Regions from separate parts of the Homo sapiens genome. Here regions 1, 2, 3, 4, 6 and 7 are each reported to be linked to region 5. Evidence: microRNA targets listed by miRTarBase, many of them from high-throughput screens and not tested one by one. Region 5 holds a microRNA gene; each other region holds the end of a gene's coding sequence.

Evidence for each region. The annotated mature microRNA hsa-miR-3617-5p reads AAAGACAUAGUUGCAAGAUGGG and lies in region 5 at 1,673-1,694, opposite strand. An mRNA with a match to its seed (bases 2 to 7 or 8) in the 3' UTR can be bound and repressed. Matches are read on the target gene's strand: a 7mer-m8 pairs with bases 2 to 8, a 7mer-A1 pairs with bases 2 to 7 and ends in A, and an 8mer does both.
Region 1: the mRNA of SKIC3 is a reported target of hsa-miR-3617-5p. The part of its 3' UTR that is shown has no 7-base or 8-base seed match.
Region 2: the mRNA of PIGN is a reported target of hsa-miR-3617-5p. Seed matches in the 3' UTR shown: 7mer-A1 at 1,118-1,124 and 7mer-m8 at 2,710-2,716.
Region 3: the mRNA of ANK1 is a reported target of hsa-miR-3617-5p. The part of its 3' UTR that is shown has no 7-base or 8-base seed match.
Region 4: miRTarBase lists FGD4 as a target of hsa-miR-3617-5p. Seed matches in the 3' UTR shown: 7mer-m8 at 3,206-3,212 and 8mer at 2,948-2,955.
Region 6: the mRNA of GXYLT1 is a reported target of hsa-miR-3617-5p. Seed matches in the 3' UTR shown: 7mer-m8 at 29-35.
Region 7: the mRNA of NBPF15 is a reported target of hsa-miR-3617-5p. Seed matches in the 3' UTR shown: 7mer-m8 at 1,841-1,847.

What each region holds. Positions count from the first base shown.
Region 1 is chr5:95,461,303-95,465,398 of GRCh38, reverse strand. SKIC3 (SKI3 subunit of superkiller complex) reads left to right here. Exons shown (of 43, transcript NM_014639.4): 43 at 718-1,505. The coding sequence ends at 792. Among named protein-coding and RNA genes, the nearest start is that of FAM81B, 72 kb to the right of the region's middle.
Region 2 is chr18:62,042,181-62,046,276 of GRCh38, reverse strand. It overlaps PIGN (phosphatidylinositol glycan anchor biosynthesis class N), which reads left to right. Exons shown (of 31, transcript NM_176787.5): 31 at 298-4,096. The coding sequence ends at 421. Among named protein-coding and RNA genes, the nearest start is that of PIGN, 140 kb to the left of the region's middle.
Region 3 is chr8:41,657,940-41,661,939 of GRCh38, forward strand. It overlaps ANK1 (ankyrin 1), which reads right to left. Exons shown (of 43, transcript NM_000037.4): 41 at 3,937-4,000; 42 at 3,491-3,625. The coding sequence ends at 3,527. MIR486-1 (microRNA 486-1) reads right to left here and starts at 2,569; the gene lies at 2,502-2,569. MIR486-2 (microRNA 486-2) reads left to right here and starts at 2,505; the gene lies at 2,505-2,568.
Region 4 is chr12:32,640,075-32,644,074 of GRCh38, reverse strand. FGD4 (FYVE, RhoGEF and PH domain containing 4) reads right to left here. Exons shown (of 17, transcript NM_001370298.3): 17 at 1-3,799. The coding sequence ends at 3,542. Among named protein-coding and RNA genes, the nearest start is that of DNM1L, 37 kb to the left of the region's middle.
Region 5 is chr20:45,703,478-45,707,573 of GRCh38, forward strand. It overlaps MIR3617 (microRNA 3617), which reads right to left and starts at 1,703; the gene lies at 1,625-1,703. WFDC10B (WAP four-disulfide core domain 10B) reads right to left here and starts at 1,542. Exons shown (of 4, transcript NM_172006.2): 1 at 1,441-1,542; 2 at 1,020-1,084. WFDC13 (WAP four-disulfide core domain 13) reads left to right here. Exons shown (of 4, transcript NM_172005.2): 2 at 967-1,117; 3 at 2,386-2,450. The coding sequence ends at 2,428.
Region 6 is chr12:42,083,959-42,088,042 of GRCh38, forward strand. It overlaps GXYLT1 (glucoside xylosyltransferase 1), which reads right to left. Exons shown (of 8, transcript NM_173601.2): 8 at 1-3,989. The coding sequence ends at 3,828. It also overlaps the pseudogene LOC101929308. Among named protein-coding and RNA genes, the nearest start is that of GXYLT1, 59 kb to the right of the region's middle.
Region 7 is chr1:144,419,705-144,423,800 of GRCh38, reverse strand. NBPF15 (NBPF member 15) reads left to right here. Exons shown (of 22, transcript NM_001385408.1): 22 at 545-2,411. The coding sequence ends at 788. Among named protein-coding and RNA genes, the nearest start is that of TRN-GTT3-1, 2.5 kb to the right of the region's middle.

The sequences.
Region 1 (4,096 bases), not on the chromosome of region 5:
ACCTATAGCCTAGATCCTGAGCTGTGGTTTCAAAGAGGAACAATTTCATTTGAACAGTTCTATGCATAAAGTAGTCTTTTTGAGTAAGAGTTTAGAGGTGACAGTATTATTAACAAAGCCAACAAACAAAACCTTTAATTTTATGCAGTGCTAATAACGATAGCAATCAGGCTGGGCGCAGTGCCTCACGCCTGTAATCCCAGCACTTTGGGAGACCAAGGCCAGCAGATTACTTGAGGTCAGAAGTTTGAGACCAGCCTCTGGCCAACATGGTGAAACCCCATCTCTACTAAAAATACAAAAATTAGCCAGGTGTGGTGGTGGGCGCCTGTAATCCCAGCTGCTTGGAAGGCTGAGGTGGGAGAATCTCTCAAACCCAGGAGGTGGAGGTTGCAGTGAGCCACCAAGATCAGACGATTACACTCCAGCCTGGGTGACAGAGAGAGATTCCGTCCAAAAAAAAAAAAAAAAAAAGCAATCAGAATGTTGGCATCTATACTAATTTGAATGAATTGTGCATCTCTCTGATGTTAGCTTCGTTTAAACAATTTATATCTGCAAAAGTGACTGAAAGATTGCACAGAGTCACTTTTCCTAGTATAGTTTGATGTTGCCTTTTCAAGACTGCCGCCCTTGGATTACTTGGCTTCAATGAATCAAAATATAGATATTGTTAATAAACAAAATACTGACGTTCCTGTATGTGATTTCCCATAGGTGCTGGTAAACAATGCCAAAACTCATGGAGATACAAGAGCATTGGAACTGAATCAGAGATTGTCCTCACAATAACATTGGATTATTTTATAGTAAGGAAGCAAAGAAAAAGCTGTAAGAATGAAGCAATGAATCAAGACTTCTACCCAAAGCAACATTTTTTTAAACTATATTTATTCCTTTTCTAAAGGAATCTAGAGAAGTTGAAGTTTTTAAGTTAGGAATGCAATTTTCTGTTAACTCCAAACCTGATTTTAATCTGAAAAAAAAAAAATTTAATTTGGGAAAACCAGAATGAAAGGAAAACCATTATTGCCTTGGTTGCTTAACATTATTTGTAAACCATTATTTTCTGCATCTTGCATGGTGCACAATAGAATATCTTTTACTGTAATCCCTTACAATAAAGCCTTAATAGCCATTTTCTATGTAATATGCAAAAGTAGATTAGCACAATGCACAATTTTCTTTTGTTAAAAATCAAATTCAAAGATTTAATTCTTGCTATGAATTCTAAAGTTCGGCAAACCAATTCATCATAAAATCCAAATAATCTTGTAACCTATTTATCTAGTGATTCATCTCCAATTCTGTTGAAAAAGCATAATATAAATGTTGATGAGACTAGACTCTAATGGATATGTTTATATAATTCCAAACACTCAGGTGTGTGAATGCATTTAAAAACATTAATGGAAAATAATGCTGATAATATTTAATTGATCATGCAATTCCTTCAATTATGATGGAAAGACTTGAACTTTCTGAAATAAAACAAAAATACAGCATCTTGTTTTCTTTATAGTGTCAATATCAGACATAATTTCTAAATTTCAAATTTTAAAACTTGAAAGCACAGTTATCTATTTTTTTAAGCTCTTTACATATTTGAAAAAACTGTCACTTTGGATTTGTGGTTTTAAAAATATTTTCAGACACTTACATATTTATTGTACAGAAAATATGTGGTTACGCGATTTATGTATGTGGCTTTTCTAAACCAGCAGCATCAGGATGTTACTTTTTAAGATAATATAAATTGACAATATCCTATAGTTAAGTTGTACTTCAGAGGTTAATAATTGAACTGAATTTTCATCTGGTGTTTCCCAAATCTGGCTGAACATTATAATCATTCATACCCATGCAATCAGAATCTTTAAGGATGGGGACAGGCCTAGGACTCTGCATTTTAAAGGTATGCCGAAGAAATCCTAATGTTTATTCAGATTTTCAAACTACTATATTACTCCAATGATGATTCTTCCCTTTATTTCTTCAGCAAGGTTCAACACGTGCCATTCTCTGCTCATTTCTTCCTTATCTTCATAACTGTCAAACTGATTCAGTGATTTTAACAACCTGGTCCACAGACTTAGCCACAGATGCACTTCAAAAGGCTGCCTGCATAGCCCTCATCTCCATGCCGTTTCCTCAGGAAAACACTTCAGCTTTTTCTTCCAGAACGGGTTGGCTCCATCTACCTAAATGCTTTGTATTCAGTTCTTGCCCTCCATCTGTTTTCTGGAGCGTCACTTGCTTCACAAGATTACCCTTTGCTTCGGGACCATAATCAAAGGGTAACCTTTTGACTTTTTTGCCAAATTCTGCCTTCCAGGGACCTCAAACCCAGGTTTTTCTAGACTGGAGGGTTGGAAAAACACCTGAGTTGATACTTTCTCAGGTCATTCTTTTTTGCATTTATGTGCACACATTCTCCCTTAACTTTCGTTGCCTTCTTCTCAAATTGCCACCCAGTTACCGTGAGCCTCAGATAATTTCTGCTCACATAATTTTTATGGAGCTTACTTTGTGCCAGAGCTAGGCTAAGTGTTCTTAACATTGTCATTTAATACTAATTAATAAAGGTGAATGGTGTTAAACAACATGCCTAAAGCAAAGGAAATTCACGAATCAGTGTTATCAGATTCCAGAAACTCTAAAACAGTGGCCAGAATGTCTTTTGGGAGTTTAAAGTTTTTTTTTTTTTTTTTTTTAAGACGGAGTTTCGCTCTTGTTGCTCAGGCTGGAGTGCAATGGTGCAATCTCAGCTCACTGCAATCTCCGCCTTCTGGGTTCAAGTGATTCTCCTGCTTCAGCCTCCTGAGTAGCTAGGATTACAGCCATTCACCACCACACCCAGCTAATTTTTTTGTATTTTTAGTAGAGACAGGGTTTCTCCATGTTGATCAGGCTGGTCTCGAACTCCCGACCTCAGGTGATCCGCCTGCCTTGGCCTCCCAAAGTTCTGGGATTACAGGCGTGAGCCACCGCGCCCAGCTTTAGACATAAGTTTAATTAGAGAAATTAGATTAAAAATTATTTCCTGAAGTACCAGTATTTAATATTCATATTAGTATTTCTTTTGTTATATTTTGTTTGAGAATTGTAGTGAATTTTCTGCTATTTTTATCCATTTTTTATTATTGATTAATTAGATGTTTATACACTAGTTTGGCATCTGATAATTTCCTATGGGAAAAACATGTTTCAGCTTCCAAGTAAACTTTTGGAACATAATCTGTTTGGGGTCACTTGTCATTTTTCATGAAGTGTCCCTTTTAATTTCTGGTCAGGAAAAAACAATCTAAAATCCTGTGCTCTCTTTTCACTTTATGAAAAGGAGCTATTAAACTTCCTTTAGTTTAGAATTCTCTACAGAATAGGATTAGATAGAAATACTCATACATTAAGGGAGTTCAAAGATGTGGTTATTTAAAACAGTATAAAACATTAGGTAAATATTTACTAGTTTGTAATGTATGAATATGAAGGTATACATACTTGGTTGCTGCATAAAAAGTTTGATACCTCCTTTGGGAAAGTTTTATAAGAATACAAAAATGAAGCCTATTTTGGAGTATGAGTGAATGTGGCTTGCAGATCCCTTTTTGTCTTGGCACATTAAAAAATGTAGAAACTTTGTTTTGACAAGGTTGACCCTTGTGTCTCTACAGGTCTTCCTTTCACTCACTTTAGTTGTTAATGGCTAGAAAATGTCTCAGGCTGCCATGTTGCTTGCTGTAAGGTATAGCACTCAGCTGCTGGTTATAAATTGACCCTCAGTTTCCAGGAGAGGTTTTTTTGTTTTGTTTCTATTTTTGTACATTAAAAAGGTACATTTATGTATTATATACAGGTACAATAATTTTTCCACTTGTGTTTTTAAAGACTTTTTATACAGATGAAATGAAAGTCCAAAAACTCCCTCATTTAGAGTATGTGCCTCATTTTTGGTTTAGAAAATGTAGTTAGTCACATAAGATCTATTGTAACTCCAGACCATTCATGGTGTCTAGCTGTCCCTATGCTACGATAGTGGGTTTTTCGTTCTTTTGGATTAGAAACTTTTTGAATAGCAATATTTTAAATCCTGGTA
Region 2 (4,096 bases), not on the chromosome of region 5:
GATATACATAGCTTATATGCAAATACGGCACCATTTTATATCAGGGACTTGAGCATTCAAAGATTTGGGTATTCGTGGAAGGTCCTGGAACCAGTCCATGGACAGCTGTACTTGAAGGTCCTGGAACCAGATACCAACAGACAGCTGTACTTAGCAGGAGGAATAAGGTAAAGAACACCCACTCCAGCTCCTGAAAGTGGAGATTTTCATCTGTCCATTTAAAACCATTCAGAGGAATCTCATGATTTTCCTCACCTGTGTTCTCTCTGCCTGTAACATCTTTTTCTCCTTTTGCAGCATCAGCCACTATGTGATTGTCATGTCCATGACCATCTTTTTGGTGTTCCTCAATGGCCTGGCCCAGCTGCTCACAACGAAGAAACTCAGACTATGTGGCAAACCCAAAAGTCACTTCATGTGAGGTTGCTGAAGCACCATTCAGCATCTGGATCCTGATTCTCCTTTTAAGCTAAAATCTCATCAAGGCTTCAATAAGAAGATGGATATGGATATATAGTATATTCTACTCCTGTAAGGAAAATGGTATTTGGAATTCCGAATTGACAGGTTATCTGGAACAAAGGAGCTTCTTTTTTTTTCTAGGTTTTGCAGGCATGAAATAGTGATTATATCTGTGGAAAAGCATAGGAAGGCATTCTCCTTTTTCATTTTTTTCCTTTGGCTGGCAGCTCTTCCCAGTGATGTTGAGAGCACCTGCAGCAATCTGGTCCCCAGTCGCACAACTTCCCACATACCCAGAGGAGAGCATATGCCTGTGGGGGCAGTGCTGATGGCATCCAGAGTCATTGCTGTGGCTGAGCTGGAAGGAAATCACCAGGTGCCACCGTCAATATTTATCAGCTTTCAGCACTGGTTTTGTTAGACAGTCAGGGTGTATTATTTCAAGAGCTTCAATAAAAAAAGTGTTTGCAGGTATTTGTCATATTTCTTTAGTATGCAATAATGCTATCTTATCCTTTTTAGTGCTATTTCTCAGGTTTTCTCAGTCAACCAGCTAGATGCATGTGATGCATGTCTATCCTTCACTTTTTTTTTTTCATTTCTGGATTTTCCTGGGATTTCTGACAACACAAAAGTAGAAAGTGCTTGGTATTTCTGTCTTATACATAGGAAAACATTTAAAATAAATAGTTTTTAATTGTAGGCTCAACATCTGTTACCCCATAGCTTTTTCGTATATTGTTTCTTTCCCTTTGAATTTCTTTTTACTGTCATCTATTATTTTAACAGGAGTTAAAATAACTCCTGTTAAACTTTCTGACAATATCATAAGAATTCATATTAAAGGTGTTATTCTTTCTGGTTGTGAGATTCTAGCACAAAGGCCTAAAATCATCAAATTAGATTTCCATTTGTAAACAAATTCTAATGGGCAAAATATCTTGAGAGCAGTTTTTATATGGATTATCCATAAAATGACCTTTACATATCCCTGCAGAGTTGGCCTTTTGCCCGTGGTGTGCTAGTAGCTTTGGCTGATGCTAAGCTTTCCTGGTATGCGCCCTATTTTTAAGAAGTAATTGCTTTTGAATTAAGTTATAGCATTACTAATTCATGTTAATGACTAGGAAACCCTCTGTAATTTACAAGATTTTTCAAATTGGTGGGGAGTGAATAAATACAATTTAAAAGTCAGAAATCAGTTTGGCAAAGTGTACTTTCTTAATTTCTATTTATGATGAAGTATAGTCATAATTTATTTGTAATACTACTTTATGGTATACCAGTGAAAGAACTGTAGTATAAAAAAGAGGTATTAATGTTTTATGAAATCTCATGCATCAGTTCATAGCATAAAATCTAGCTGGACAACTAAGAAGCTATGGTAGCAAACAGTGATGTTGATGGAATGAGAATCATGAACTTTCATATTACCTCAAAGGATTTTTTTATCAGTTTTTTTCACACATCAGAAAAAACTGACTGTATAAACACTTATCACTGACCTTTTTCTATGTGTAGTTTTGCCTTTTATCTTTTCCCAAATTTTTATAAAGAGAAATTAATAAATATTTTATTACAACATTGTAAAGGGTGCTCAGTTTTTTTATCTTTCTTTATTTTGCTCTTTGAGGCATATCTTTTTCTTAATTTTGTCCTTTCAGGTCAGTGTGAGTCTGTAGAATAGGTTGAACTTCCTTCTGACAGTATCATAGAGTTTGTGGAGTTTGTGTTGTGTGCCTGCAGCCACAGGCTCGCCTTGCTGCACCGTAACTGGCCCCTTCAGACTCACATGGGAACAAGCCTTTTCTGTTGCAGTTTCCCAGATATCTTTAAATGTTTTGAAATGTATATTTTTATGTTGCAAAACAGAAAAAAGAAACGAGTTAGGGAAAAAGTATTTCTATTTAAGGTATTTATTTTTTCATTCTACCTATGCCATAGATTTCTGAATCAAGACTTAGGACATTTGCTGATTAACAATGTTTAAATTAGGAATTGTTATAAGAATTAAAATAGGCAGAACAAGTTGTGAAAATATTGAACCAAAAAAAGGCCATGCTATCATCTTAGAGGGCCCATGAATAAACCTTAGAGGGAATCCTAAGGCTTTAGGAAACCGCTGCAGCTTGTCTGTCATTTTCCAATATGTTAATTATTATACTTAGTGTACAGTATTTAGAATACAAAATGCTTTTTTATTTTTTAGGAAAATAATGTTATAAATGATTGTATATTTTCATAGTAATGTCTTTATAATTATTTATTAATGATAGAGCTGAATTAGAAAAGCTCTTCATCCATTATAATATGGTTTCTCATGAAAAACTTATTACAAATTTCAGCCAACTCAGATATTAAGAACATCAGTGTCAATCCTCCTCCCCTCCTGCGACCTTTTTACACTTGTTTTGGTGGACTAGGGGCTCCTTTTCTCCTCCTTTTTGACATATAACTGTGCCATTAAAAACATGATTTCTGATGAAGCTGGCCTAGAGGGAATGAAGGAGATTGCGTGGGTATGGTCTCTAGGACAGGCGTAGCTGTTGCAGGGCCACCCTGTCCTTGGGAGAACCTGGTGAGCTCCCATATTCACACTAGATGCCATCATGTCAGGGGGCTGAAGAGAATGGAGCTAATCAACTCTGTCATTTGGAGAAGACCCCCTTCAGACCAGTTCTGAGAACTCCTTCTTTTAAGAGACCAGAGATAACTTGATCATTTCTCACCTTTTCGTAGTTGTTCTTTTTTATGTTGACATTCCCCTTACTGTTTTTAAAATGCTTCAAAGCATTAATGATTGTTATGCTGTGTGCTTTCAGTACTATGGCAATATCTTTGTAGCATTTTCCCATTTCTGTATAAGCATGGTTTTTTGTTTTTTTTTTTTTCGTTTTTGTTTTGAGACAGGGTCTCACTCTTGTTCAGGCTAGAATGCAGTGGCACCATCTCAGCTCACTGCAACCTCTGCCTCCTGGGCTCAAGTGATCCTGCCACCTCAGCCTCCTGAGTAGCTGAGACTACAGGCACATGCCCCCACACCTAGCTAATTTTAAAATATTTTTTGATGGAGACAGGGTTTCACTATGTTTTCCAGGCAGCAGCATTTTTTTTTGACTGGGATTTCTTTATGATGCTTTGTTATTTAAAAAAAAAATGAGAAGGAAACATTAATAATCAAAATTATCTTTAATTGGCCTCACAGGGCTAAAATCTAGAATTATTATTACTCTTGGGTAAACTCATGAAAAGTACTTAATATTCATTCTATAAAGAAACAAAAAGAACCTTTGAGATGTGTCTCTTATTCATTTCCTTGGGTACACTTAAAACGGGTTACAGTTACTGCTCAACTTTCTACCTTCAGAACTGCAGCATTTATTTGCCACACAGCAGCATTTATCAGAGATTGTCCCTTAGAACATTGGTTCCTTGTAATACAAATAAATGTCATAATAAAAATAGTTTCTTTTTTCTTTCTTTCTTTTTTTTTCAAGACAGACTCTGGCTCTCTCGCCAAGGCTGGAATGCAGTGGCGCAATGTCAGCTCACTGCAAGCTCCGCCTCCCTGGTTCAAGCGATTCTTCTGCCTCAGCCTCCTGAGTAGCTGGGATTACAGGTGCCCACCACCACG
Region 3 (4,000 bases), not on the chromosome of region 5:
GGTATAATCATAGCTCACTGCAGCCTTGAACTCCTGGGCTCAAGCGATCCTCCCACCTCAGTTTCCCAAGAAACTGGAACTACAGGTGTATGCCACCATGTCCAGCTAATTTTTAAACTTTTTTTGTAGAGACAGGGTCCTACCACATTGCCCAGGCTCATCTCAAATTATCCTCCTGCCTCAGCCTCCCAAAGTGCTGGGATTACAGGCATGAGTCACTATGCCCGGCCCTAGACAGCCCTTTCACAAACATAAACTCAGCAACCATCATAACCATCCTACAAGGGAAATGCTGGCATTATTGCTAGTTTATGGCTAAGGAACCTGAGGCTTAGGGAAGTCATTTGACTTGCTCCGAGTCACACTACAAACAAGACCTGCAATTGTTTGAGTCCCAGAGCATATATGTTCTTATTTACTCTCTTCACATCAGTGCTCACAGTTACCATTATTATTTCTAAACCTTTTTCTTGAAGTGTAGCACATTCGAAAGGGACATTTTCATCCTCCCTTGAGGAGACTGAAGCTTAGGGCGGTTAAATGACTTAAGGCCATACAACCTGGAAGCAGGAGGAGGCCTTGATTCTAGACTCACAAGCTCCAGCTTTCACTCTCTGAAACAAATACAGCCATTTGCCATAGCTCTGTTCTATAAATTAGTCGCTGTTTGAGGCTGTGCACAGTGGCTCATGCCTGTAATCCCAGCACTTTGGGAGGCTGAGGAGGGCGGGTTGCTTGAGGTGAGGAGCTCGAGACGAGCCTGACCAACATGGTGAAACCCCGTCTCTACTAAAAATACAAAAATTAGCCAAGGGTGGTGGCACATGCCTGTAATCCCAGCTACTCAGGAGGCTGAGGCAGGAAGATCACTTGAACCCGGGAGATGGAGGTTGCAGTGAGCCGAGATAGTGCCACTGCACTCCAGCCTGGGCGACAGAGCGAGACTCCCTCTCAAAATATAAATAAATAAATAAATAAATAAATAAATAAATAAATAGTCGCTGTGAACACGGAATTAGCAAATACTGAACCACTGCTCCTAAGGGAAATACAAGGTTAGGCTCCCATGAGCCTCTGGCCACAATATTTTGGTCAACTGATGAATACATAACTTTGTGTTAAATGCGTTTCTGTTTCAAGACGCCTTATGTAATATATAGGGTTGACTCATTAACACTGACTTCACCACCACAAGCACTCTAACTCATCCCTGAGCAGAGCTTATCTGATGTCCATTCCCTCCTTAAGGAACATCCCAGCCTTCTTGCACTTCGCACCAGACAGCACTTCAGCACTGCCCTCAGGGGCCATTCTAAACAATGAAACCAAAAATGTGAAAAATGTGGCACTACACAAGCTGCAAGGAGGACACTTATTTATAGTATGAGGCACAGAGGCAGAGTGTGGCATTGTTCATCCTCAGCTGGGATTGCACGGGTTGGGCGACTCAAACTTTCTGCCCTTGTGTGTGTGTCCATGAATGAGCCAAAGCACGGTGAGTGCCAGCTTTGGGGCTACAGATAAATGTTAGCGAGTGGACGAATTCGCAAATGCAGAATCCGTGAATGATGAGGATCGACTGTACATGCTTGTCGGGGATGCGGATAGTAAATTAGGAAGCCTTTGGGCCCTCAACCGTCTTCTCTGTAGCCTTTGCCCTGGTTGGGAGGGTAGGGCATTTAATGCTGTCCCCTAACCCTCTGGGACTTTGGCAGGAGCTTTTCTCCGCCTCTCCCTCACCACTGCTCTCGCCCCACCGCCCCACCCCCCTGCCACCCTCACACTTGTCCCTGTGCCTGTCACTGACAGAGGGCCAAGTGCTGTCCCAGAGCCAGGCTGCTCCGTGTTTCTGACACCCATGCTAGTGTGGTCCGGTCCTTAATCACCTGAGGTTGGGGGGCTTCAGCCACATTGCAGATCACTTACGGCAAATTAAAATGAAATTCAAGGCTCCCTCCTTCCCCCTAGCCTGGCTTTCGGGCTGCCTCTCTCCCACTCAGGAGCATCCATAGAGCCTGAGCCAAAGAGAAATTTAAAGCCACAGCCGCCACTGCTACCATAAGAAAAATAAGTCAGAAAAGTGTACTTTTCCTTTCCCTTTGCTGCTTTTAAACATTATTTGCATCTTTGGGTTCTTTCCAGGACCCAACAGCAGCTACTCAGAGTCTTCTAAACCAGCAGCCTAGTGGGACCCCTGGCAGTGCAGGGGTTAACACGGTGACCTCCTTAAGCTGCTGAGGTGTCAGGTCTAATTTTATCCTATAACTGGATCTGCCAGTCCTCTTTTTTGCCCAAGTGCTGAGATATATTGGGAAGCCCAGAGTCAGCACTTTTGGTGGCTCAGGAGGCAGCGGGCCCTGATTTTTGCCGAATGCAGAAAGCTAGAGCCTCCTTGCTGCTCGGTCCCAGAGTCAGGCCCTGGGGTGTGAATGGTAACGGCCTGGTTAGTGCTGCACTGGGGCCACCATGCCCCCTCACCTCCTGCTGACTCCCACCCCGAGGTATCCTGTACTGAGCTGCCCCGAGCTGGGCAGCATGAAGGGCCTCGGGGCAGCTCAGTACAGGATGCCCCAGGGAGGATGGAGATCAGAGCCGGCCGCTGAAGCCCCCAGCACCACACACACCTGCTGGAGATGGTCGCACAGCGTCTTCATGTCCCTTCCTCATGGCACGGCACGGCACGGCATGCCCCTGCTCTGTGGCCACACTGCCCCATGCTCACACACATGCACCACAGCCCAGGCCCCGGCCCCAACCCTGACGGTCTCCTGACTTGCAGAAAGCACGTCGTCCACCCCTTAGGCCTGTCGGCTCAGCCCTTTCCTAGAAAGCAAGGGAGCAACGTGTTTCACAAAACACCAAAGAGAAGCTAAGCCTTGGCCTGGTGAGAACTGTAGCTGGGCTCCAGGTTCAAGAGACAGTCCAGTCCTCAGTCTTGGAGCTCTTATGTTGAAGCATCACAGCCCAGACCAACTCTCCTGTCCTCTTCAATGCCCTGTCCACTGCTTTCTAGATCCCCATTGCTTGGTTTCCAAGATAATATTACCACTTAGATTTACAGAGTGCTTTTACTTTTCAAAGAGCATTTTTTTCTTTCTGGCTTTTTTTTTTCTTTTTTTTGTGATGGGGTCTTGCTCTGTTGCCCAGGCTGGTCTTGAACTCCTGGCCTAAAGCAATCCTTTTGCCTCGACCTCACAAAATGCTGGGATTACAGACATGAGCCACTGTGCCCGGCCCAAAAGGCATTCTTACAAAACCGTGCGGTCCCTGATAAGTGGATATTATTAACTCTGTTTCCTTGATGAGGAAGCTGGGGTTCAGAGCCAACTGTTAGCAGGGTTGGGAAGTGAGAATCTCTGCCTCGAGACACAACAACAAGTTGTTTGTCCCACATCATGCTGGGGTGGCTGGGAGGGGATAGGGTGAGACAGGGAGCAGCCACTCCACTGAAGACCAGGCCATGCAGAGGGGATGAGAAGGGCAGCGTTACCTCCCGAGAGGCTACTCCAAGGAGAGCGGCTCGGGGTCACTGTTTCCCCCTTTTCAGGCTGGCCCGCTTCACTATCTGCGCCCCCTTCCTGCCCTCTATCAGGTCCGGCTGTAGGCCACTCCCTCTCAGCTCCACCTGCAGACAGCAGCAGAGACAGAAAGCAGGACAGATCGCAAAGACGGGCAGAACACAGGCAGAAGATCGAAAGGAGGCCACACGGAGGTGGCAGACACACTGCCCACCAGGGAGAAGAGAGACTGGAGAGAGAGCTCATAAAGAGGTGAGTGGAGGGAGGTGTCATGCAGACGGCCCGGCAGAGCAAGGCAGCAGTGATGGCGCTGGGTCCCCCAGGGCCGCGGGCGCCTCAGTACCTTGGAGTGTTTCATAAAGTAATCAATATCGACCTCCAGCTCACTGGGATCCTCCAGGGGCCCCTCTACAGTCACCTCCTCGTGCTCCTGGGCGGCATCGGCGCTGGACAAGTCTATCTGTCGAACCACCTTGCGAATG
Region 4 (4,000 bases), not on the chromosome of region 5:
CAAATATCATATGATATAGGAAATCTTCATTAATCTATTCTGCATTATAGCAAAGATACCTATAAAACCCAAGACGCTTGTTCCCTAGAAGTTTACTTGCTCCGGTTGGTGCTTGCTACTCAGGTTGTATCTAGTCCAGAAAGATCATCAGAAATTTATCACAGACAATATGCTCAGATTAAGAACTTAAGGCTTTGAATATAACCAGAAAACAAATAAAAGCAACCACCCTGTTTCCAAAAAGTAAGGACAAGGAAAAGTAAAACAGAATTGTGAACTCAAAAGTATTTTTGACAAAAGTTTTTAGAAGGCATCAAAGAATCTTTAACAACCCTGCAGTACCACAAACTTTATCGTTTTCTTTATATATTTATAACTAGAACAAGTGTTCTTAAAAAAAAAAAATCCAAACGTGTGCGTATATATATATGGGGAAAGGGTACATTTAAAAGGTTAGTTTCTGTAAAAAGTTTAATAATTTTTAAAAAAATTGGGGTAAGTTAAGTCACCTAGTGAAGATAAGTACACAAACCTGATGTCAAATTAAACTTCAGGGAAAACAAAATGTGCTTTTTCTATCCATTTTCTTTGTTAAAGTAAAAATGTTCTTGATAGTTATTTAAAATCCAAGGAATGATGCCCCTTCCCATTTCCCTTCCTTATACTCTGCAATTCGAATTACCGTATCACATCTAGAAAGTTAATAATTATCTATATTCTTGTGGGAAGGGGCCTTCATATTAAATTTTCAGTATAAAACCATACCCTAAAGAGTTTTATTGCTTGCATACATGATGACACTGTGATGCCATTATTACAAAAGTGGCTGGTGTTTTTTATTGAGCCCCACTTAAAACCAAGATAAAAGTCTGCACTATATTTCATACTTAACACGCCAAATGGTAGGCTTTCAGCAAAAGCAAAATTTAAGCTTAAAATATTGAAATGTTTTATAATGAATAGAAATTTTGTCAAGGAAGTACTTTTTAAAGTTTGGAGGAAGGGCACTTTAAAGAAAAGATGACTTGGAAAGCACCAAATGAGTGAAAATAAAGAATTAAGACCCACAGGGAACGTTGGTTTTAATGGGAAAGCAACCAATGATATTTTTAGGTTGTCATGACTGCTCAAGTATGTTGGAAGGGAAAAGGCATTGATTATTCTTATCATCAATCACACTTTGAGGTCTCTTGGTTGAATTGTTTAATAAATGGCTAAGGGTATTACTTTACCTTTCATTGAGTAAAAACATCAGTGATTCTTTAATAAGAGAGAAGCGGGTAAGGCTGTTTCACTGCTTCTCTTTGCGTTTAGCTGAAGAATGTGGGGTGGAAAGTGAATATGGTGACCGGATAACCAGAAATTCTCTTCTAGTATTAATGCTTCTCATTTAAAAAATTAAAGATAATGACTGTTAAGAGCATGATAATAAACATTATCTTTACATGAGTATTCTTTCAATGATCTAAGTTAAATAACATTGATATTTATTGAGCCAAAACTTAAGTGTGTCCATGTTACTTCTGTTTTGGTAGGGAAAGTGTAGTCTTCTTGCTTTTAAAAATAGTTTTCAAAAATAATCTGACTTATAAATCTTCCCATTGGCCCATACATTACCATTGTTCTAGTCACACTTACAAAAGTCCTCTTCCCCAGTTAATCATTCTGTATTTCCATTGCTTCTCTTTTCTTGAGATTAAGAAAACCAAAGCATCATCTATAGCTACAGTTTAATTTTCCAAAAAACCACTCTGAGTATACATCACACACATACCCCGCTGGCCATTAAAAAAGAGAAGCAATGTAAATTTTCTTCTAGTCTTTCCCTGATTTAATAGGGCCTAAGAAGCTACTTTTATCTCTTTTTGGCTCCATCTATTTGGTTTAATGTTAATGATCATGGCTGATAATCCTTTTATGGAGGAAGGGAACCTATTATGTCAGCAATAATTGGTTCACTTGCTCCTTTGGGGTGGAAAAAATAAGATATTTCTTAAAGTAACAAGGCCTGAATAAATGTGTGGCAGTCTCAAATTCTATTCTATATCTAAGGTGTAATCCTTACATACTAAAGATAGTGGGATCATTCTTGTAGATTTCTAGCAGACTGGTACATTAAAAAGTGACAATGTTTGGGGTATGACAGTATAAAAAAAGGTTTAATTTGAGAAAAAGGATTAAGTTAAATAGTAAACTTAGTGTGAGATTTTAATCACAAGTACAAAAGAGTGAAGAGCAGCCTTCATGACAAGGAATCATGTGACCAGCCCCCACCCCAAACATAGGTTATCACATGTGGATTTTGTTTCATTCCGACAAAGGAAAAGGCCCATACAGTTATCTTAAGTGTTCATTATATAGAGACCTTATTTAACCATGCTCGATTATCTTACGGAAAAGAAAAACATTACGATAAATGTGGTTTCCACATATCCTAGTTCTGTAAAAGGTCAGGTGTCTCATAAAGTTTGGGTTTTGGTGAAAATGTTTGTACATGCTGATGTTAACTACTGCAATAATTATAGGATTGTAAACGGTAAAATAACCTGTATGACTTTGACTGTCCCAGTGACCAAAATGCACTTTAATCTTAGAATAATCAAGACTGAAGCATTAACTGAACCCTCATCTTATATTAATAGCACCTTCTAAGAGAGGCACTGTTTTAAATAGGCACAGAAACAAAAAATGGTACTTTAAAAGTACTGTTGGAATTCACAAATATATCCCATGCCACATAAATTACCGCTTATTATAAAAATATCAATACCCTCAAATGCCAATCAGCAAAACATAAATCACCAAAACATTTCTTCAGTTTAGAACATTGCTCAATTCCACGATAAACCATGCTTTATATTTAAAAAATAAATTAGAGATGAATGTGAACCTAAAAGCATGTATAATATATATATTTAATACTATATATACATAATTGCTATATACTTAAGACATTCTTAGGAGTATTTCTACAAAAACAAGTTATCTTTTCTTTATAAATCGGAAATCTGAACACCAACAATTTGTCCTTTTTCTTTTGTTTTAAAAGAACAGACATCATTTATGCAGCTAGAGATTTATAAACTAAATTAAATAAGTTAATACAATAGCCTCAACTGTCCCTGTATTTTTCACCATGGATCTATTTTGGCAACATGGAGGTATATCTTTCAAACTGTTCCAGGTCCTACATGTGAAAGAGAAGAAGACATGAAAGGATTTCTTAAATGGAAGTGCTCATTCTAACCTGACGGTGACAGAATCAATTGATACACCATTTCTTCAAGACAAAAAAGCACATATTCAAGGAATAGCTCAAAAAATGCTCCAGTTTTCACATTATTTCAAAACTTTATCGGTAGAATGACTCTGCACACTAATTTCACTAAGAGTACATAAACATAGGAAAATAGTCCTCAAAAGATGCATTTATGGGCCTATATTTTTCAACATAAAGTGCTAGCAGATGTGTAAGAAGAGCTGGGAATGTCTTGAGCTGTAAGTCCTGAGACCTCCACACCATGGCTGGTCCTGGAGGAGTTCAGCATTCTGATTTTTTCTTAGGTTCAGGATGATCATCCAAGGTGGCTGGATGCTCATTTGGACCACCTGGTGTCTCACCTGTGACAGCTAAAAGGATGACTTTCAGCCACTTCTGCTTCAGTTCCTCACTGTCTGCAGCAAAGCTGTGCACGGACTTAGACTGGGTCAGTTTGAAACTGTGTGGCAGGTCTGCGCTCCTTGGCATTTCATCCACCACATAGCCCAGAAGTGGAATGGTGGCCTGGGCTCTGACGTCCTAAAGAAAAGACATCAGACATTAAAAGCAGGTGATGTATTCGCTTGTTAAGTGTGTCCCTTGCTCCTACTAAACCTCTCTTCCTACCACTGTCCCAAACAGACTTAAACGGTGAGTTCTCCATGGGCACAGAGGGCAATCCCATTGCTTAGTACAGAGCCTGTACGTGAGGCCACTGATAATGTTAGCTGAATGAATGAG
Region 5 (4,096 bases):
GCAGAGGAATAGACCCACAATTCCTCTATTTGCAATAGAATGCCCCACTTTTGACTTTTGCCCCCAAAGAAAGGGAGAATCACAAGGTACAAAAATTAGGACCTGGAAGGGCTTGGGGAAAGGGATTAATGGGGCCCATCTTTAGAGTCCAGGAATAGAAAGGAGATTGTGGGTTGTGGACTTAGGGAAGACTCTCCCAGGGCAGGTAGGTCTTAGCTTTGAACTGAAATACTTGGGGGTAGGGGAGGAAATAGGAAGTCAACATAATGATGCTTATTCTTCTCTAACAGTAGAAAGTGGGGCATCCTGGTGCTCTGGCCTCCTGATCGAGAGACACCAAGGAAGAAAAAAGCTGAATCTTTGAACGCCATTCTGAAATCCCCACCCTTCTTACCATGAAAGAAGTCACTCCCAGAACTTACTTGTGAATTGGGTCCCAGCTCTCTGATCCAGTACCTTCAGTTTAATGCATGGTCTTCATCCTTTACCAAAACTTACCTTTCACTCATTCTTCCTGTACACAAATAACCCATGTTAGGTTAACCCCAGGGTAAACTATGTTGTTAATGAGAAGCTCTACAACTTGCTCAAGACCACACAATGAATCAGTGCAGAACGAACATACAAACCTCTTTCTTGTTCACCACATACACCATTGATACCCTTGATATGGACACAACCATAGTCAATGGGGGCTTGGCATCTGAACTACAAGGATGGTGAATGACCAATGGGTGCAGGGTTCTACCAAACTCTGTTCTTGATCAAAAAATATCCATGCCCTGCTTCCCTGCTCAGAACTCAGAGGAAGGCAGCAGCTGAGGACAAAACCTGATGCCACCACCCTGGAACCATGCAAGGCAGATGAGGGTGGCAGGTTTCCTGGCAGTTCCCTGGGCTTTCTGAGTTCTGAACATTACTCCAGCCTGTTGGTGAGGCCCTTCTCTTACTTGTTCTGTGTTCCAGAGTATATCTTGGAACCTCCACCCTGCATATCAGCACCTGAAAACTGTACTCACCTGTGTACAATGCAGGAAGATTGCGAGAAAGGATTTCAGTGCTGTTCCTCCTTCTGTGGGATAGTCTGTTCATCAGAAACATTTCAAAAGCGCAACAGGTAAGAGATATCTCATATCCAGGTCTGATCCTAGAGCTGCTGGTGGGAGCCCAGCAGAAGAGTCCCTTACCAGCAACTGTGCTGGATCTCTCCTTTTTTTTTTTTTTCCTTGGTGGCCATGTTGCCAACATGCCCCTTCTCTTGACCAAGGATAATTTCCATAAAAGTCCTGATTAGAAAAGCCCTCCTCCCCTCCCAATCACCACATCCCATCACCATATCCGTGAATTTCTGACTCTGCCTCTCTGAACACACCCACAAATGCCTTTATCCACAGACCTTCCCCCGACCCAGAATCCACCCTTATCCCAGGGACACTGTACCTGCAGGTGTAACCAAAATCCCAAAGCAAAATTTGTCCTACACTTTTGCTTGCCCTCCTTTCACAAGACACCATCCTTTGGCCACCAGTGTTCTTGGGCTCTGGAGATCCAGCCCAAAGGAAGTTTTGATTAATTGTCCAGACATTAACACTAGCCGCAAGCCTGCTAAATGGAGTGTGCTCCCAGGGCAGAGAAAGGACATAGGGTGCTGATGAGACATATGGTTTCTAATCCCATCTTGCAACTATGTCTTTCTATGACCTTGAGTAAGACAATTCCCTCTTTTTTACTTTCTTTTTCTCATGAGTAAAATAAGTACTCTTGTTTTTTCCTGCTTTGCAAGGCCCATATGAAATTTCAAAAGACTCACAGTGGAAGACTCAACCAATGAGCCCTTTGAGGGAAGCCTGGCAGTCTTGTTCCCTGCTGTATTCCCTACCATGAGCAGAATACCCAGCATGAGATAATGTGCAGAGTGATTAAGCATGGGCTCAAAGCCAAACACCTGGGCTCAAATCCTGGCTTCTTAGCTAAGTGACCTTAAGTGATCTTAGACAAGCTAATTAACCTCTCTCTGGGCATCAACTTCCTCATCCTTAAGACTGGAACAATAATAGTGAGGTTAAAATAGACAATCCATGTAAGCTTTAAAACATTACTTGCCAACATAATTGCTGTGAATTTTGGGGATTAGGCAACCACTTCTCTTTGAAGAGACTAGCCCTTGCAATTAAATTCCACATCTTTCAATGCTCTACATTGGAATGCAGAAGCATAAATATAACTCTTTGGTGTCATTGAGTTTTTTGAGGTTCTGCCTTCCCTATGGCAAGAGAAATGAGCTTCATGGTCTAATATTAATGGTGGAAGTAATTGAAAGAAAAATATATATCTCTAAAAGTAAAACTTCACTAGTTAATATTTGAAAATATTTTTCTTCTACAGAATCAAACACAAGGGCTCAGAAGTCATCATGCCTGCCAACTGAGGCATATTTCCTAGATCATTTTGTAAGTACAGGGATTTGGTCTCGCCTTCCTCATGTGAGATTCCCAGGGATGCTCACTTTCTTCCTGTAGCCTCACCAGGGGCACTACATTCCCACAAGCTCAGAATGGCCTCTCATTACCTGATTGCCTCCTCCTCCATCATTCCCCTCCAAGGGCTATCTTTGCACTCCCTGGGGGAGGCACGGTGCAGTCCAGCATGAATTCTGCAACACAGAGCAATGTAAGGAACCAAGTCATGGCCCAGGGGGAACCCAGGGCACTCAGATCTGAGGCTTTGTCAAGGAACAAGCTCTTCTAGCCTCCGGGTTGACAGCACCCTGGGCAGGGACTCAAGCTGAGCCCTTCACGCTCTGAGACTTTGGTCTGCTCACTGTACCTCTCTGAGACAGTCACCTCCCTCATGTGAAATATGAAGAAAACATCCATGCCTTGGGGTATTGGGAGGACAACACAAGGCCATGTAGATGGAAGAACTTGGTCTCTGCAAAGGTAGAAACTGCCAGCAACTCACTTACAAGGTCACTCATTCAGGTTCCAGTTTTTTCTCTGAAAAAAGAGGGAGTGGGCCGGGTATGGTGACTCACACCTGTAACCCCAGCACTTTCGGAGGCCAAGGTGGACGGATCACGAGGTCAGGAGTTCAAGACCAGCCTGACCAACAGAGTGAAACCCTGTCTCTACTAAAAATACAAAAATTAGTTGGGTGTGATGGTGCACACCTGGAATCCCAGCTACTCAGGAGGCTGAAGCAGGAGAATTGCTTGAACCCAGGAGGCAGAGGTTGCAGTGAGCCAAGAGTGCACCATTGCACTCCAGCCTGGGCGACAGAGTGAGACTCCGTCTCAAAAAAAAAAAAAGAGGGAGTGGGAATCATCTTTATTATTTTACTGATGCTTCAAGAATGGTGAACAAAATGGAGTCCTGTGGAATTCCACCACCAAAAAAATGATAGTATTCATAAGTTGGTGGATTTCGTTTCAGAGTATTTGAAAGAAAAAGTTAGAAGTTTAGGGTCTTCTAATGGGCCTTCTGATGTCTCCAGATGTTCCAAATTAGAATGGTGGTCTTTCAGCTTAGTCCTTTTATTAACCCTGTACAAAGGAGCGTGATAAATAGTAGCAGGTGGAGGCCAGTGGAGCAGTTTAGACGCATGAGCACTTGCCCAGGCTCCGGTGAGCCCACCATGCTGCGGATGAGCTCCCACTCATGCTTCAAGGTTTCTATTAAATTAAACACTCCATAGAAACTTCACCAGTTCACTCCAGACAGAATTAGTCCCTCTCTTTGTCTTTTGTAGTGTCCTATCTTTGGCCTACCATAACCTAGTGACCCCTGATCCAGGGCAGGAAATACTGTTCAGAAAAATCTATAGACTCTTTTACTACCAGAAACTGACCATATGTGGTTCGAGTTGACCTGAGTGAGGCAGGTCTCTTACATACAGGTTGGCTATCACTGTTTTAATAATCTGAGTTTGATCTATCCAATACTGTAGGCACTGGTCACGAGAGGCTATTTAAATGTTAATTCATATGAATTACAATAAAATAAAATATTCAATCAGTTCCTTAGCCTTATTTTCCATTTCAAGTGTTTAATAACCACATGTGGTTAGTAGCTACCATATTACACATTATAAATACAGA
Region 6 (4,084 bases), not on the chromosome of region 5:
CTCACAAACTGGGATCCACTAAAAAAAAAAGACATAAAATGTTGAATTGGCACTAAATGATCAGTGAGTAGGGTGATTGGGAAACAACTCTAGTACTAACAAACCAAATACAGCAGGCCCTGCTGCCCCATTCCATGGAAGTCAGCACCTTTCCTGACCCCAGAGAGCCCAGGCAAGCAAACTGATGTAGTGTGAGGGCTACAACTCAAAAAGTAAATGTTTCCACACCATTTCTCTCCATCTCTACTTCTCAATTTTCCATACACTCATTCCATCTTTTCTCTTACTCTGCCCTTTGCCATCCCCATTCTTACTCCTTTCTCTTTCCTCACCCCTTTTCTCACTTCCTCTCTTTTCCTTCTTTTTTGATTTAGTTACATCATTCTTTTCTTCTCTACTTTCTCTTCCTGAAAAACTCTTCCTTACATAAACAAATTCATACTGGAGATATATGTCAGAAAACATTCAGCCTGAGTAAACTGAACGCTCTGTACAGAAAACAACGAACAAAACAGAACTTCAACAGTAACACTGGCGTGGCATAATATAAGCCACGCAAAATGCTTCCAAATCCATTATCTCTTCTGAGTTTCATCTTGTGAGGTTTGAAGGGTACACTGATTGTACTTAAAAACCTAAGGCACAGAGAAGGGTAAATAACATGCCTGAGTTACTAAAAAGAGAATCCAGATCTAGTTCAAAATCTGGTCTTCTTTTCACTATACCAATAACATCTGACTGGAGGCAAGATGAGAGAGCAATGAGTAAGCACTAATGTTATTTCAGGGCCTTAAAACCCTTATATATTATGAACTACTCTTCATTAGAAAAAAGTATGCATTTTCTTAAAGCATAAATCACAATATATATTTTTAAAGGTTTCCCAAGTTCTTTTCTACTTCATACAAATGAAGTTTGACTGCATTTTAAAGGCATCCCACTTTGGTAATACTGTAGCCCAGAGATAGTTCTGAGGTCAGAATACATAGACTCAAATAATAAATCATGTAGTTTATATAAACTGCATAGATACACTATGTTTTATGAAAGACCATTTATATGAAGATGGAATACGTTCTCTAAGTTGTCCATCTATAATTTAACCTCTCATCAACTCCAAGAACTGCATTTCTTTAGAATTCAAAAGAATTACCTTGTCTAAAGATAAATTCAGAAAATTCATTTAAAAATTATTATACATATTTTGTGATACCTTTAATTTTAGGTAGAAACAGTACCCAAAAGACAGTTTTCACTATAATTCAATTTATGGTAAAATGATCAATTAGGTCAGGTCTAAATAAACCAGATGAAGAACCTTCCAACTGATCCACAATGTAGTGTGTGTGACAGTGTAAATAAGCCACAACATGAGTGAGACCACAGCATACAGTCCAGTTGGATTAAACTGTGACCACGCTCTACACAAGTCCCAATCAATTAGAGCCCATGGGGCTGAGATTCTCCGTTCACTGAGGAAATTTTATCTTATCAAACTTACTAATATAAATTCATATCCTGTCATTAACCCCAAATGCTTCCTCTAATATTTCAAAATCACATTTATAATCCACCAAACGTGCCAAGAATTGTGGTATCCTAACTTGAACTTTCAAGTTGGCAAAATAATTTCCAGTGGTTCTCAAAGTAGCTAACATCAAAGTCATCTGAGGTGATTGTTAAAAACGAAATCATCATGTGACTTATATTCTGTTGATTCTAACAAACCAACTAGAAGATGATTTTTGAGATAATCAGGGAAATTTGCTTAAGGACTGGCTATGAGATGAAGCCGAAGGACTGCTGCTGCCTCTGTTAGGTGTGATATCGTGGTATCTACCCAAAGTGTTCACAGCAGTGAAATAACACAATGTATGGGATTTTAAGATACTTAAGCAAACAAAAAAATGACAAATGAAGCAAACATGGTAAGATAGTGATAAGTGTCAGATCTGGATGTTGAGTACCAATGCACTATTCTAGTTTTGTGTAATTTTTAAATTTCTTCATTAAAAATTGTTTTACAGACTCCCTCCTAGACACAGCATGCCAGAGTCTCCAAAGGCCTAGCTCAGGAATCTATTCTTAAGCTCCCAACAAGAATCTTACATAGTCAGGCAGGCAATGATCATTATTTGAGGACCATTAGAAATGATCTAATACATACCCTCCAAACTTCACATTTTTAGTATTCTCATTTTCTACTCAGTAAGCTCAATTTCACAGTTTCTTATATTCACCATGGCATTCTGCCAAGGAACTACAACTCGTGTTCTCTAAACCCATCTGTTCTAAGAATGCTGGACTGGTTATCAACTTCTAATGCACCCTGCTTAAACTTTCCTCTCTCAATTTGTCCCTGACTGAACTGCAGACGACAGAACAACTGTACTAACCATCTCTTTCTGCATATTCCATGTCTCCACAGAGGTCACTGTGTCTTCACAAAGCTAACTGCCACAATTTTCACAGGTTGTATTTTTCCTTCATGATTTTCCATTTTCTACTTGAGCATTAAAATATCAGGGAGAAAAAGAAGATAACCATATAGATAATCATATTGTTGGTAAAATAAGATATGTGCCCCAGCATAGTATATGCTAAGTATTCAGAATCTATAGTTATATTAGCTAACAGGTCAAGAATGCCAAAGAAGTAATTTCTCAAGATTTAAAAAAATTAACTGTCTTAGGTGATATTCAAAAATGCACATCAACCCAATTAAAACCACATTTTCTACAGCTGGATGTAACAATCTTATTCCAAATCATCCACTTAAGTTGTTTAACTTACTTAAAGTAAGGCTCTAGACATTTGCTTCTTCAAAAGTATCTTGCAAGGCCGTTATGAGGTAGAAGACAAGTTTAAATGGACCATATTTTTCTACTCCATTGTAACTAAAATTACTACTCACAGGAAGTATATAGCTTATGCATTTTGGTCCATCACACTTTCCACCATCATGAGTATACTCTTAAGGTTCTCACTTTACCATCAGCATAATATATTTTGCTTCCAGAATGCCCAGTAAAGCTGACGTTTTTCATTTAAAGTGATTAAAAAAAAATTCCCCAAATATCTATTTAACAATCTTAGATCTGAGTTTTGGCAAGACAGTTTAATGCATACAAAATGAAACACTACATTTCTCACTCTCTCTCACACACAAACACGCACACACAGATTAAAATCCCAAAGTTTTCACTATTTTTCCTCTACCTTACACAGCTCAATTTTTAACATGCAGCTTACTTGTAATCTAAAAATAATTTTAAACATGATTGTCATAAAAATATTTTAAAACAGAGATGAAATGTATAAAGGCACACATAGATTGTCAATGGTTACATCAGTTACATCACATTTCTTCAGAAACAACAGACCTGTTTCTGCTCCTGTAAACAAACTTTTTTCTCACACTTTTAAAGTGAGGTTAGTGCTGACATAAAATTATTGCTCTACTCACAGTCTTGAGTGTTGGCACTGTTTGAGGTACATTTTCTCCATCTACACACCCCTACCACTCTTGAGAGTATGAGTCAACAGAAGTCTGCAGGTTAAACCCATTCAATAGTATTTTCATCAATACTGGAATGATAGCAAGTAACATTACAAAACATCAGAGATAAAAAATGTTCAATGTTGAGGCCCAAGATTTTAACTTATTCTTCATTACCTGAAAATACTGCTTACTTAACTTCTTTAGGAAAAAAAAAATTATTCTGGAGATGAGTAATTCCTTCCTGAATACTTCATCCAAGACGATTCCTTCACACTTATCTTCTGATTCTTTGTTTTCATCCATTTGATTAAGCAGTCACCAAGAATCACTTTTCCTTTGGTGATCTGGCATAACGATCTCTTACACTTTTTGCTAGTTGTTTGATAAATATTTTGTAAATTTTTCCACAGTATGTATGCACTGTTTTTTGTAGTTCCAGTTCTAAAGGTTTTAATAAGGAACGGATGTTGTCATCTTCAAAAGAACACTAGAGAAAGAAAATTTTAAAAAATAAAAAATTTAAAAGGCAAAGGTACATATGTAAGTTCAATTATTTTCCAAACTTCTTCAATCAGTTTAATA
Region 7 (4,096 bases), not on the chromosome of region 5:
GAGTGTGTTTGATGTCATGTTTTCAACGAAGGCTGAATTACTCCTACTGTCATTGCTGTTGGTTTTCATTGCAGTAGATGTTTAGGTTTCCATTTCTTCCTCCCCTTATCATTTACTAACGTACCATAGGTTGACCATACTTCAAAAGCTGTACTCTGATGGCCACTGCATCAAATTTTGAGCATATTTTATGGAAAACTATTGAGCTCACTCTTTTTGTGATCACAGTTTGCTGTGTGTCATGAGGGCACTAACTCAGAGTGTCCTTTTACTCCCTTACCAGTATGTCACCTGGGCAATTCACTAGCTCACTTTCTCTCTGTCTCTGTCTCTGTCTCTCTCTCTCTGTCTTTCTCTTTCATTGTTTTCTACCTGGCCCTGTTCTATCCCAACATAAAGGCAATAAATTTTTTTTTTTTACCTCATTAATGAATCTATCCTTTTTCTTTTCTAACCACTTCCTTATATTACTTCTGAAATCTAGTGGGGCTCTGTGGTGTCTGATTTTCCCTGGCTGCTTCTTTAGTTTTGTCTCCTTTTCCAGGCTCTACGGCGTGCTGATGGAAGTGGAAGAGCCTGAAGTCTTACAGGACTCACTGGATAGATGTTATTCGACTCCGTCAATGTACTTTGAACAACCTGACTCATTCCAGCACTACAGAAGTGTGTTTTACTCATTTGAGGAAGAGCATATCAGCTTCGCCCTTTACGTGGACAATAGGTTTTTTACTTTGACGGTGACAAGTCTCCACCTGGTGTTCCAGATGGGAGTCATATTCCCACAATAAGCAGCTCTTACTAAGCCGAGAGATGTCATTCCTGCAGGCAGGACCTATAGGCACGAGAAGATTTGAATGAAAGTACAGTTCCATTTGGAAGCCCAGACATAGGATGGGTCAGTGAGCATGGCTCTATTCCTATTCTCAAACCATGCCATTGGCAACCTGTGCTCAATCTGAAGACAATGGACCCATGTTAGGTGTGACACGTTCACATAACTGTGCAGAACATGCCGGGAGTGATCAGTCAGACATTTTAATTTGAACCACGTATCTCTGGGTAGCTACAAAATTCCTCAGGGATTTCATTTTGCAGGCATGTCTCTGAGCTTCTATACCTGCTCAAGGTCATTGTCATCTTTGTGTTTAGCTCATCCAAAGGTGTTACCCTGGTTTCAATGAACCTAACCTCATTCTTTGTGTCTTCAGTGTTGGCTTGTTTTAGCTGATCCATCTGTAACACAGGAGGGATCCTTGGCTGAGGATTGTATTTCAGAACCACCAACTGCTCTTGACAATTGTTAACCCGCTAGGCTCCTTTGGTTAGAGAAGCCACAGTCCTTCAGCCTCCAATTGGTGTCAGTACTTAGGAAGACCACAGCTAGATGGACAAACAGCATTGGGAGGCCTTAGCCCTGCTCCTCTCAATTCCATCCTGTAGAGAACAGGAGTCAGGAGCCGCTGGCAGGAGACAGCATGTCACCCAGGACTCTGCCGGTGCAGAATATGAACAATGCCATGTTCTTGCAGAAAACACTTAGCCTGAGTTTCATAGGAGGTAATCACCAGACAACTGCAGAATGTAGAACACTGAGCAGGACAACTGACCTGTCTCCTTCACATAGTCCATATCACCACAAATCACACAACAAAAAGGAGAAGAGATATTTTGGGTTCAAAAAAAGTAAAAAGATAATGTAGCTGCATTTCTTTAGTTATTTTGAACCCCAAATATTTCCTCATCTTTTTGTTGTTGTCATGGATGGTGGTGACATGGACTTGTTTATAGAGGACAGGTCAGCTGTCTGGCTCAATGATCTACATTCTGAAGTTGTCTGAAAATGTCTTCATGATTAAATTCAGCCTAAACATTTTGCCGGGAACACTGCAGAGACAATGCTGTGAGTTTCCAACCTCAGCCCATCTGCGGGCAGAGAAGGTCTAGTTTGTCCATCACCATTATGATATCAGGACTGGTTACTTGGTTAAGGAGGGGTCTAGGAGATCTGTCCCTTTTAGAGACACCTTACTTATAATGAAGTACTTGGGAAAGCGGTTTTCAAGAGTATAAATATCCTGTATTCTAATGATCATCCTCTAAACATTTTATCATTTATTAATCCTCCCTGCCTGTGTCTATTATTATATTCATATCTCTACACTGCAAATTTTGGGTCTCAATTTTTACTGTGCCTTTGTTTTTACTAGTGTCTGCTGTTGCAAAAAGAAGAAAACATTCTCTGCCTGAGTTTTAATTTTTGTCCAAAGTTAATTTTAATCTATACAATTAAAACCTTTTGCCTATCACTCTGGACTTCTGGATTGTTTTTTACATTCAGTGTTATAATATTTGATTATGCTGATTGGTTTTGGTGGGTACTGATGCGAATTAATAAAAACATTTCATTTCCATGTTTATTTTCTAATCTCTTCCACATTGTAGGCTATGTTTACCATACGTAGCAGAATGTATTTACATTTCTTGGTTCTAGTCATTTGTATTCTTCGTGAGTGTGAGTGTGTGTGTGTCTGTGTGTCTGCGTGTGTGTCTGTGTGTGCCTTTGGCATTTAGGAAGGGTTGTATAGCTCATGTTAAATATTGCACTAAAAATGTTTTTGATGGTTTTCCTCCCTTTGAACTAGACACACTTCTAATATTTGGTTTATAGTTTTAAATTATAACTTTCAGCATCAAATATTTCCATACAACAGTCAATTACATGATGTGTTTTCTTTTTCCTACCTCCTTTACCTGCCCCTTCTCATAATAGTATTTGAACCTAAACATATACCGTTGACATTCTGTGATTATCATCTTGCCCCTACCTTGGTTTTGGTTTTTGGTGCAGTTCCAGGCTCTTGGTGTCTTTGTTTGGGACACCAAGAGCCTGGTACTGCACGGCACCAGCTGGTAAGAATTAGGCTTTTTTGGCCGGGCGCGGTGGCTTATGCCTGTAATCCCAGCACTTTGCGAGGCCAAGGCGGGCGGATCACGAGGTCAGGAAATCGAGACCATCCTGGCTAACACGGTAAAACCCCATCTCTACTAAAAATAAAAAAAATTAGCCGGGCGTGGTGGCGGGCGCCTGTAGTCCCAGCTACTCGGGAGGCTGAGGCAGGAGAATGGCCTGAACCCGGGAGGCGGAGCTTGCAGTGAGCCGAGATCGCGCCACTGCACTCCAGCCTGGGGGACAGAGAGAGACTCCGTCTCAAAAAAAAAAAAAAAAGGCTTTTTTTTTCCCTAAGGGTTAACAACAAACCAGCCCTTTGGAAAGACTTGCTTCACCACTGTTACCAACCAACGGCCTGATGCTTTCCCTCAGTTTTGTGATTTTGACAAAACAAGCAAGCAGCATTCCCTCCTGATAAGAGACCACCGACCTAGGAATGATTCTGGCCAGACTAGAGAGGATGCACAGTGAGGGTTTTCATGTCCTCTGCTTCAGCTTTTGATGTCAGAGGGCCACAAACTCCACTCTCAGATGATTGCTAATGCCACCATTTTATGAACATGGACCCCATGGAGAGGCACGAAGCTCAATTGCACTTCTGCACATTTTTCCTCCTATAAATATTGCTATTGGAATATTATTTGGTACGGCTCCCGTGAAAGATACATTTGCAGAATGTACTCAAATTAGAAGCATCATGTAAAGCCTATAATGTAGCGATAGTGCATCAACTTCCCTACACTATAGAAATATCTGCGGTGTAGACATTTCCACAATGACCAGATATGTGTACAACAAAGGTGGCTGCAGCATTCTTTGTAATCCTAAAACAATGAAACCTACCTCATCTCAAAAACTTTATTTTTTTATTTTTATTTTTTTTTTGAGATGGAGTCTCGCTCTGTTGCCCAGGCGGGAGTGTAGTGGTGCAGCCTCCACTGGTGCAGCCTCCACTGCAGCCTCCACCTCCCAGGTTCAAATGATTCTCCTGCCTCAGAATCCCAAGTACCTGGGATTACAGGCACATGCCACCATGCCTGGCTAACAAAAACATTTTGAAAAGGGTTAAATAAATCATGCACAAACTGAGGAAAAATACTCTTCAAAAATGATGGAGAGGATCACTATGATGATGAATGATTCCAC